Linked DNA regions of Homo sapiens: regions 2, 3 and 4 are each linked to region 1. The links come from fine-mapping of genetic effects on plasma protein levels. A gene starts in region 1. Each other region holds a variant in brackets. All regions are shown on one strand. Distances are between the middles of the regions.

Region 1 (2,500 bases):
CCGCCTCGGCCTCCCAAAGTGCTGGGATTACAGGCGTGAGCCACTGCACCCGGCTACTGCCTTCTTACTGTCGCCACAGCCTGGATAAAATACGATTCTTCTGAGCCTTTTTTTTTTTTTTAATACAGAGTTTCACTCTTGTTGCCTAGGCTGGAGTGCAATAGTGCGATCTCTGGTCACCGCAACCTCCGCCTCCCGGGTTCAAGCGATTCTCCTGCTTCAGTCTCCCGAGTAGCTGGGATTACTGACACGCGCCACCACGCCCGGCTAGTTTTGTATTTTTAGTAGAGACGGGGTTTCTCCATGTTGGTCAGGATGGTCTCGAACTCCCGACCTCAGGTGACTCACCGGCCTCGGCCTCCCAAAATGCTGGGATTACAGGCGTGAGCCACCGAACCCAGCCCCTCTGAGCCTCTTGAATACAACTGGGGTCATGCCTGCTTTGCAGGTTTGTCTTAAGGATTAAAGCTGTTTGGGGAGTGTCTGGAGGAGGGTGAGTCTTGAGCCAACCCCTGCATCTCCCTTCCAGGGCCTCCCGGTAATAAACCCCAAGTAAATGTGCACTTTGTCCGTCCTCTCGGAGCAGGTCTCCGGGTACTCCTGTGCCAAACCGATTTCCGCCCCCAAGGTCCTTCTCCTCTTAGAAATCCTGACGCAGCTCCTAGGTTCCTTCGCAGTGACAGCCACTCTTTTCTATTTGTACGTAGCTGTAGTGTTTTGTGGGTACGTTCTCTGAACAACAAAGTGGCCCTTCTAAAGGCTGTTCTGTGGGGTCCACAGCCTCGCCACCCCCAGCCTCTGCAGCGGCTTCTGAATGAATGAAATAAGCGACGGCGCCCTCTCCACCACCCCACCCCCGCCAACTCGGCAGGCAGGGATCCCAGGCGCGGGTTCTGGCGGAGGCGGTCCCGCGAGGCGGGGGGACTTTTCTAGGCGGGGTGGGGGCCTTGGGACCACCTTTAGGGGCTTTTTCCCCATCCCCTGGCCCCAATTCGCAGCGTTTCGCCACCCAGGGCCCGCAGGGCTCCAAGCCCTTCTTCCCCAGCCCGCGCGCTCAGGCCCCCGCCCGCCCCCGGCGGTGGCCCCGGACCCCGAGCGGAAGGGGGCGGGGGGTGTGCGGGGCCGGGAAGCGGGGAGCGCGGGCGGCGGAAGGTGGCGGGAGGGGGTGGGGGCTGGGAAGCACCGTGCGCGGGCGGCGGGAGGGCCCGGGCGGGGCTGCGCGGTGGTCACGTGGGGCGGGGCCGGGAGGGTACTTAGGGCCGGGGCTGGCCCAGGCTACGGCGGCTGCAGGGCTCCGGCAACCGCTCCGGCAACGCCAACCGCTCCGCTGCGCGCAGGCTGGGCTGCAGGCTCTCGGCTGCAGCGCTGGGTGAGTGCTGGGGACCCGGGGCCACCGCAGCGTAAGTGACCTTGGCGGGGACGGTGCTACCCGGCCGCCGAGACGGGTTCCTCTGCGCCCTCAGTCGGGCCCAGGCGCGGCCCCGCGGCGTCCCTGGGGGCCGGCGGGGAGCCGGGACCCTCGGGACTGTCCCTGACGGGCGGGCTGGGGTGGGAGTCCGCGCGCTCCGAAGCGTCGGCGAGAAAAGCAGAAAACAGCTCCGCCCGCCAGCCCTCTGCCCTCCGCTCCCCTCCCCGGGCTGTGCGCCGGACCCCGGCCCTCGGAGCGGGGACGCGGCCAGGACCGCCGAGGGAGGCGCCTGCGAGGAAGAGCTCGGCCGGGTCCGGAGACTGCTGCCTGGGACCGCGCTCCCAGCGCCTGGGCCTCGGTGTCTCCGGGCCAAACTGCCGACATAATCGCATCTGCCGGCATCTATTTTCGGTTTATTTCCCCCTCATTGCGAAGGATTTGCCTGGCCAACTTTCTGCGCAAGATCCCACGCAATTCCTGGGACCCCAGAAGACAGGTCCTGTTGAAGAACAGGAATCTGGCACTGGGTGGGCTGGGGAGGAAGCCGCACGGTGTTAAATCCATAAACAGGAAGAGAAACCAGACAGCGAAACCAAGAGGCGAATGGGCGATTGGATGCCGGTGGGGAGAAGGCCGGGGGCGCACCCTGCTCCTGGACTCCAGTAAAGGGAGGCCGGGCAGAGTCCCTGGGGCGCCACCTCCCCCTCGGTTAGTAGCCCTGGAGGCCGGGGGGAGTTGGCCTCTGGGGAGCAGTGGGTGCTGGGTGTGGGGCGTTGCAGGCAGGCTGGGGTGGGCGACCCAGGTGGAAGTGAATTGCACTTGGCTTCCTGGTGGGCCTCTGTCACCCCCTTCCCAGGCGCTGAGAAAGCCAGCAGGCTGGCAAAGAAAAGGACCCTAGCGCAGGCCCCACACTCCTCCTCCTAACGGACGAGAGACCCCCCAAACCCACTGGAGAAGTGACGCTGTGGGGTTCAAATGCAGACCTGGCACCTTTTTGTAGCCTGGAAAAACATTCCCACTGCCTGCTGCCGGAGGAGAGGATAGCTGAGATGCACTCTCTTTGAATCCAAACGTTCAGGAACGTAAGGCGAA
Region 2 (2,744 bases), 24 kb after region 1:
AGTATTGTGGGACCCCCCCTGGAGCCTCCTGGTGGAGCAGCAGGTTCCCTCTGGAAGCTGTTTCTCCTTCCCGGAGCATGACCAGCTGAGTGTGGGGGGTGCTGTGGGGCGTGGGACAGTGGCCCGGTCTCGGTCTCAGCCAGTTCTTCCCTTTTCAGGAGTGTACCAACACGTCACCGGAGAGATGATGGGTGGCCATGCCATCCGCATCCTGGGCTGGGGAGTGGAGAATGGCACACCCTACTGGCTGGTTGCCAACTCCTGGAACACTGACTGGGGTGACAATGGTGAGTGGCTGCCCCCTTCCTGCCAAGAACAGTGAATTGTGAGCCACACCCCGTGGCCATCTCGGCTTTCTCTGTTCTACCCACCGCACAGCCTTAAACCCTGGACCTACGGCCAGGCTGTGAGCTCCTCCTAAGTGCCAGGCAGTCAGGAGTTCCCTTTTGCTGTGAGGGCAGACTCTGAGCAGCTTCAGAGCCAACGCCTGCAACAGTTCCCACAGCATCGCGCCAGATCCTGTGATGGGAAGGGTGACCGGGCAGGGGGCTTGCCCGTGGAGGTGTGCCCCACGGCTCCAGAAGCCTTGTGGTGTTGAGGACTGTGCTAGTGGGCCAACAGCAGGAGTGGCCAGGGATGAGTGACTTAAGGTCTTTTAAGGATGAGTCTGACTATATTGGTTGACCCTTGTCACACTTTAAAAGCACCTTACTTTTTATTCCCAGGCTTCTTTAAAATACTCAGAGGACAGGATCACTGTGGAATCGAATCAGAAGTGGTGGCTGGAATTCCACGCACCGATCAGTACTGGGAAAAGATCTAATCTGCCGTGGGCCTGTCGTGCCAGTCCTGGGGGCGAGATCGGGGTAGAAATGCATTTTATTCTTTAAGTTCACGTAAGATACAAGTTTCAGACAGGGTCTGAAGGACTGGATTGGCCAAACATCAGACCTGTCTTCCAAGGAGACCAAGTCCTGGCTACATCCCAGCCTGTGGTTACAGTGCAGACAGGCCATGTGAGCCACCGCTGCCAGCACAGAGCGTCCTTCCCCCTGTAGACTAGTGCCGTAGGGAGTACCTGCTGCCCCAGCTGACTGTGGCCCCCTCCGTGATCCATCCATCTCCAGGGAGCAAGACAGAGACGCAGGAATGGAAAGCGGAGTTCCTAACAGGATGAAAGTTCCCCCATCAGTTCCCCCAGTACCTCCAAGCAAGTAGCTTTCCACATTTGTCACAGAAATCAGAGGAGAGACGGTGTTGGGAGCCCTTTGGAGAACGCCAGTCTCCCAGGCCCCCTGCATCTATCGAGTTTGCAATGTCACAACCTCTCTGAT[C/G]TTGTGCTCAGCATGATTCTTTAATAGAAGTTTTATTTTTTCGTGCACTCTGCTAATCATGTGGGTGAGCCAGTGGAACAGCGGGAGACCTGTGCTAGTTTTACAGATTGCCTCCTTATGACGCGGCTCAAAAGGAAACCAAGTGGTCAGGAGTTGTTTCTGACCCACTGATCTCTACTACCACAAGGAAAATAGTTTAGGAGAAACCAGCTTTTACTGTTTTTGAAAAATTACAGCTTCACCCTGTCAAGTTAACAAGGAATGCCTGTGCCAATAAAAGTTTTCTCCAACTTGAAGTCTACTCTGATGGGATCTCAGATCCTTTGTCACTGCCTATAGACTTGTAGCTGCTGTCTCTCTTTGTCCCTGCAGAGAATCACGTCCTGGAACTGCATGTTCTTGCGACTCTTGGGACTTCATCTTAACTTCTCGCTGCCCCAGCCATGTTTTCAACCATGGCATCCCTCCCCCAATTAGTTCCCTGTCATCCTCGTCAACCTTCTCTGTAAGTGCCTGGTAAGCTTGCCCTTGCTTAAGAACTCAAAACATAGCTGTGCTCTATTTTTTTGTTGTTGTTGTGACTGACAGAGTGAGATTCCGTCTCCCAGGCTGGAGTGCAGTGGCGCCTTCTCAGCTCACTGCAACCTGCAGCCTCCTAGATTCAAGCGATTCTCCTGCTTCAGCCTTCCGAGTAGCTGGGATGACAGGCACTCACCAATATGCCTGGGTAATTTTTGTATTTTTAAGTACATACAGGATTTCACCATGTTGGCCAGGCTAGTTTCAAACTCCCGGCCTCAGGTGGTCTGCCTGCCTCAGCCTCCCAAAGTGTTGGGATTACAGGCGTGAGCCACTGGGCCCTGCCTGTATTTTTTATCAGCCACAAATCCAGCAACAAGCTGAGGATTCAGCTCATAAAACAGGCTTGGTGTCTTGGTGATCTCACATAACCAAGATGCTACCCCGTGGGGAACCACATCCCCCTGGATGCCCTCCAGCCTTGGTTTGGGCTGGAGTCAGGGCCTGTATACAGTATTTTGAATTTGTATGCCACTGGTTTGCATTGCTGGTCAGGAACTCTAGTGCTTTGCATAGCCCTGGTTTAGAAACATGTTATAGCAGTTCTTGGTATAGAGCAAACTAGAAGAACCAGCAATCATTCCACTGTCCTGCCAAGGTACACCTCAGTACTCCCCTTCCCAACTGAAGTGGTATGAGGCTAGCTCTTTCCAAAAGCATTCAAGTTTGGCTTCTGATGTGACTCAGAATTTAGGAACCAGATGCTAGATCAAATAAGCTCTGAAAATCTGAGGAACATTGTAGGAAAGGTTTGTTAAGCATCTCTTAAGTGCCATGATGAGCATAACAGCCGGCCGTCGTGGCTCACGCCTGTAATCCCAGCACTTTGGG
Region 3 (2,744 bases), 17 kb after region 1:
AGAGAAGATGCTGGTGCTTTTTTTTGGTTTTTGAGAGAGTCTCACTCTGTCACCCAGGCTGGAGTGCAGTGGCACGATCTTGGCTCACTGCAAACTCTGTCTCCCGGGTTCAAGCGATTCTCATGCCACAGCCTCCTGAGTAGCTGGGGCCACAGGCTTGCACCACCGTGCACGGCTAATATTTGTATTTTTAGTAGAGACTGGGTTTCGCCATACTGGCCAGGCTCGTCTCGAACTCTTGGCCTCAGCAAGTCATCTGCCCAACTCGGCATCCCAGAGTGCTGGGATTACCGGCATGAGCCACCCCCAGTGTTTTCTATTGTGCTTCTCCAAGGTGTCTCAGCCGCAGATGTGACAGACAAGGTCTGGGTCCCCACTATGTGGGCAGACTCAATCTTGAGTAATTTAAGGGAAATCTAAGAAAAGCCAGATGAGGCCAAGTATGGTGGCTCACGCCTGTAATCCCAGCACTTTGGGATGCCAAGGCAAGCGGATCACCTGAGGTCAGGAGTTCGAGACCAGTCTGACCAACATGATGAAACCCCGTCTCTACTAAAAATAAAAAACTTTGCCAGGCGTGGTGGCGGGCGCCTGTAATCCCAGCTACTCGGGAGGCTGAGGCTAGAGAATCGCATGAACCCGGGAGGCAGAGGTTGCGGTGAGCTGAGATGATGCCACTTCCCACGTGAGGATGGGGTAGTTAAGTTGCACGACACTGCCTTCTGCACAATGGGGATGATATGAGAAATGATGAGAGGATCCTGGGCAGAGGTTGAGGCAGGAGAGCAGGGCAAGAAACACTATCTGGACTGAATAAACTTATTTAAAAATGAGTTTATAATTTGTGGATAAATTCATCTTAAAAAATCCATTACATAAGCCTAGAAAGAAGCGTACAATATCGCAAGTCAGGCCAGGTGTGGTGGATCATGCCTGTAATCCCAGCACTTTGGGAGGCCAAGGCAGGCAGATCATTTGAAGCCAGGAGTTTAAGACCAGCCTGGCCAACATGGTGAAACCCTGTCTTTACTAAAAATACAAAAATTAGCCGGGTGTGGTGGTGCATGCCTGTAATCCCAGCTACTCAGGAGGCTGAGGCACGAGAATCGATTGAACTCAGGAGGCAGAGGTTGCAGTGGGCAGAGATCTCGCCACTGCACTCCAGCCTGGATGACACAGTGAAATTCTGTCCACTCCCACCCTCCCGTCCCACCCAAAAAAAAAATCAAAAGGTGCATTGAGCAACAGAATTTCCTTTTGTTTTATGAAATTACCAAGGACACCTGTCTGCAGCCTTCTTCGGCATGTCTTGTGCTCATTTCCTTGTTAGGGGAGTGTGGCCCAGCCAAAGTGGCCTTTGCAGGGATTGGGGAGGGAGTTGTGGGATCAGAGCTTGTAATGAAGACCTTCCTTTATCCAGAGTTATGTTTACCGAGGACCTGAAGCTGCCTGCAAGCTTCGATGCACGGGAACAATGGCCACAGTGTC[C/T]CACCATCAAAGAGATCAGAGACCAGGGCTCCTGTGGCTCCTGCTGGGTAAGGCCCTGCTGGCTGGCGGGGAAGCGCTGGAGAGAAAGTGGGAGCAACACTGGAGAGTCTTGGGGGATTCGGGGTGGGGACAACTCTGACAAGGCAAGTTATAGAAACTTTCTGAGTCCCAGTTTCCATCAGTACAAAAATCACAATCCCTCTGGCCATGAATGATGGCGAGGATTAGGTGGAGTGGCGGGCAGAGCATCCAGCAGATTGCAAGTCCACGTGTACAGGTGGCGAAGCAGCTCCCTTTCCCTGACATGCTGGCCCGTCCGCAAATACCAGGAGCTCTCACTGCTACTCTGCTTCAAGAAAGCATCCCTTTAGTGTCAGTGAGCTGTCTTAATTTTGTCATTTAATTGTGGTAAAATACACGTAACAGAAATGTAATAATCTTAGCAATCTTCTTTTGTTTTCTTTTTCTTTCTTTTTTTTTTTTTTTTTTTTTTGGAGATGGAGTCTTGCTCTGTCACCCAGGCTGGAGTGCAGTGGTGGGATATTGGCTCACTGCAACCTCTGCCTCCTGGGTTCAAGCAATTCTCCTGCCTCAGTCTCCCCAGTAGCTAAGACTACAGGCATGTGCCACCACGCCCAGCTAATTTTTGTATTTTTAGTAGAGATGGGGTTTTGCCATGTTGGACAGCCTGGTCTCAAACGCCTCACCTGTTGATCTGCCTTCCTCGGCCTCGCAAAATGCTGGGATTACAGGCGTGAGCCACCGTGCCCAGCAACTATTTTCAAGTGTACAGTTCTGTAGCATTAAGTACATTCACAGTGTTGCTCAGCCACCACCACCATCTGTCCCCCGAACTCTTTTTCAGCTCGCAAGACAGAAACTCTGTCCCCATTAACACCAATATTGTAGCCCCTGGTAAGCCCCACTCTACTTTCTGTCTCTATGAATTTGACTCCTAGGGACCTCATACAAGTGGATCACAACAGTATTTATTTTCTGGGTGAGCTGTGTTTTTTGTTAAGAAAAAAACACAGCCAGGTACGGTAGCTCACGCCTGTAATCTCAACACTTTGGGAGGCTGAGGCAGGCGGATCACCTGAGGTCAGGAGTTTGAGACCAACCTGGCCAACATGGTGAAACCCTGTCTCTACTAAAAAGACAAAACTTAGCTGGGCCTGGTGGCAGGCACCTATAATCCCAGCTACTATAGAGGCTGAGGCAGGAGAATTGCTTGAACCCAGGAGGCGTAGGTTGCA
Region 4 (2,744 bases), 37 kb after region 1:
TTTCCAAAGAAAATTTAGGAAATAATTGCAACTTGATGGCTTTCCTTGGCCTAAATTCCCTACTGTGATTTTTCAATTGAGGCCTGTGGCATAATGAAAGTACCAGACTGGGTGTCAGGACACATGGACGGGAGCCAGAGATCCACTCAATCACGCACTGCATCAGCACAGACAAGCTTCAACCTCACATTCCTCACCAGCAACAAGAAGCTTGGTTGGCCTCCTGCATCATCTTGCAGCTCAAAATCTATGATTCTACTGAGGGGCTCCAACCTACAGCCTTGCTCCATTTATCTCCTCTCACCAGGGTACTACACAGCAGTGAGCAATCTGCTCGGCTCCTGTGAATAGACTTTTTTCCTTATAAAGGATATCAATTCCTGTCTCTTTAGGCCACAGGATAGTGAATTGTTAGGATCATCTAATATCCAAACCTGGTTAAACAGTGACATTACTAAATCATAAAAGTAGCTACAAATTATCCAAGTAGTTAAATAAAAACCCACCTCTTCCATATACTGATATATGATGGCTTTGACAGCTGGCATATTGGTGGCATCCATCATCAGGGTCACTGCTTGCCCTTTCCGAATCTTCACTGCCCCTTTGAACACCTGCTGGTTATTATAACAGGCAGCCAAAGTGGCAATGGCCATCACCTAGAGACAACAAGAAGAGAGGGAAAAAAGAAGAAATGATGTCGTTAGCTATCATTATCACAAAAAGGTAAGAAAACCTTCTGTTGAATGGGCAATTGCTAACTGCTAATCAACTAAGATGGAATCGCTCAAGAAAAAATACCCACGAAGAAAGTATGTCAAGATTTTTACCTTCCCCACTCCTCCCTTTCTCAACAACACACAGAATTAAGCAGTCTAAAACAATTCTATAATGTAGCCACAAAAGTTCCATTTTATTTGGAAAAAGCAAACACAAGTAAATCCAACATTTTCCATGCTAGAGCAATGGATTATCGGATCGGAAATATGTATTTCAAAATAATATATGGGAAGAATTTTCTATTGTAGTTGTTTTTCTATTTTTCCTACAACAAACATAATCATTATATATTTAAAACCAATGCCAGGGGGAGAACAACCAGAAGGGGATTAATTTCCTGTGCTCAAAGGTAAAGTATTTCTAGGTAAATGGAAACATAAGACGGCGATACAGATTTTACTTTCAACCACCATTCGAAGT[T/G]GGTCATTAGAACAAGATCAAACCAAGTTCCCAAATCAGTTAAATGCTGTTACTTTCTTCACTTATTTGCAGTAGTATCTGCAATACTTGGTAAAGGCAACTAAAAAGTGTAAGTTCCTAGCATACTGAGAGGCTAGGTCTACCGGACCAGGTTCTTTTTATGCCGGGTCTAGGAAAAGGACAGCAGTAATTAGGTGCTTAATGAAGACTTTTTAATGATAACAGCTTCACCCAGGTTTTACCCAGCACTCCCCATAAATCTAAGCCAAAGACCTTGACTTAACTGTGAGGAAAAGAACCTAACTAGTTTAGGATAGCTGTAGAAAATAGTAAATCCAGAAAGAAGGTTCTGAAAAGGAGCAGGCTTAACCTCAAGGCTGAGCTGAGTTTGGTGGCTGGAAGCAAAGGCGGGTGCTATGAAACTCCCAGCGTAATAAACTGGAGTCATCGTCTTTTTAAGGAATCATATCCTTGAATATAGCACAGCAAAATCCACCCTTACTCCTACCCCACTCCCTTTAGCCCCGTATCCACCCAGAGGAGCCCCCTTCCCTACCTGTGGAATAGCACAGAAGTTAAACACACTCTGGTTTCTGAGTCTCGAAAGGTAGGTGATGACATCTGGGATGTGGTGCAGTGCATTGGTTATAAGTTCATTCAGGCACTGCACGGCCAAGTCAATATTCTCCGGCTTAGCAAAATCCCCTAACTTCTTAACATACCTGCTCCAAACCTAGACAGATAAGAAGATTAAGGAACAGGTCAGCGTGTGCATAGGGGAGAATTTACAAACAATATTAAAGGGTCTTTGTGCATAAGAACTATGATACAGGCTGGGCGCCGTGGCTCACGCCTGTAATCCCAGCACTTTGGGAGGCCGAGGAGGGTGGATCACGAGGTCAGGAGTTCAAGACCAGCCTGGCCAAGGTGGTGAAACCCTGTGTCTACTAAAAATACAAAAACTAGCCGGGTACGGTGGCAGGCGCCTGTAATCCCAGCTACTCAGGAGGGTGAGACAGAAGAATTGCTTGAACCTAGGGGGCGGAGGTTGCAGTGAGTCAAGATCTCGCCATTGCACTCCAGCCTGGGTGAAAGAGTGAGACTCCGTCACAAAAACAAAAACAAAACAAAACAAAAAAAAACACTATGATATACAGTAAAGTCTCTTAGCTGCAGACTCATCTTTCACGAAGATCAAGTTCATTTTAAGCTCCATGCAATAGCTATTTCTGACTACCAGTAAGTGTCCAGTTGCAACCTGGAAGTGAGTTACGTATTGGGGAGCATGTCCCGAGGGACAACTAGTGCAACACTGCACTACTTGGACGAATTCAGGCTAAAGAGGCTCCTGTTAGAGCTACTGGCCTACTTCTGAAAAAAATAACCCAATATACAAAAACAGTTATAATTGTACTGCAGACTAAACAGTAAACCTTCTCAAGATGGCCAGGCCTCTAAATAATGACTAACATTATATTCCTACTCTGGTAAGAAAGCTGCTGAAAGGCATAGCTGGGAAATGAGCTGAGTCTATCCTCTAAGTG

Evidence for each region. PIP is the posterior inclusion probability: the model's chance that the variant is causal. The UK Biobank Pharma Proteomics Project read protein levels with antibody pairs (Olink). The fine-mapping took linkage between variants from a reference panel, not from the people measured, so its PIPs are less certain.
Region 2: its variant is fine-mapped to the plasma level of the CTSB protein (UK Biobank, PIP above 0.99).
Region 3: its variant is fine-mapped to the plasma level of the CTSB protein (UK Biobank, PIP above 0.99). The variant lies in the coding sequence of CTSB. If it changes the protein, the assay may bind it differently, which can mimic a change of level.
Region 4: its variant is fine-mapped to the plasma level of the CTSB protein (UK Biobank, PIP above 0.99).

What each region holds. Positions count from the first base shown.
Region 1 is chr8:11,866,870-11,869,369 of GRCh38, reverse strand. CTSB (cathepsin B) reads left to right here and starts at 1,283. Exons shown (of 10, transcript NM_001908.5): 1 at 1,283-1,369. RefSeq lists silencers at 1,130-1,249, 1,390-1,719 and an enhancer at 1,810-2,019.
Region 2 is chr8:11,843,204-11,845,947 of GRCh38, reverse strand. CTSB (cathepsin B) reads left to right here. Exons shown (of 10, transcript NM_001908.5): 9 at 159-287; 10 at 726-2,744. The coding sequence ends at 823. Among named protein-coding and RNA genes, the nearest start is that of CTSB, 24 kb to the left of the region's middle. The variant C/G (reference allele first, on the strand shown) is at 1,335.
Region 3 is chr8:11,849,657-11,852,400 of GRCh38, reverse strand. CTSB (cathepsin B) reads left to right here. Exons shown (of 10, transcript NM_001908.5): 4 at 1,421-1,535. Among named protein-coding and RNA genes, the nearest start is that of CTSB, 17 kb to the left of the region's middle. RefSeq lists a silencer at 2,470-2,652. The variant C/T (reference allele first, on the strand shown) is at 1,489.
Region 4 is chr8:11,829,433-11,832,176 of GRCh38, reverse strand. FDFT1 (farnesyl-diphosphate farnesyltransferase 1) reads right to left here. Exons shown (of 8, transcript NM_004462.5): 6 at 1,757-1,933; 7 at 507-659. Among named protein-coding and RNA genes, the nearest start is that of FDFT1, 28 kb to the right of the region's middle. The variant T/G (reference allele first, on the strand shown) is at 1,201.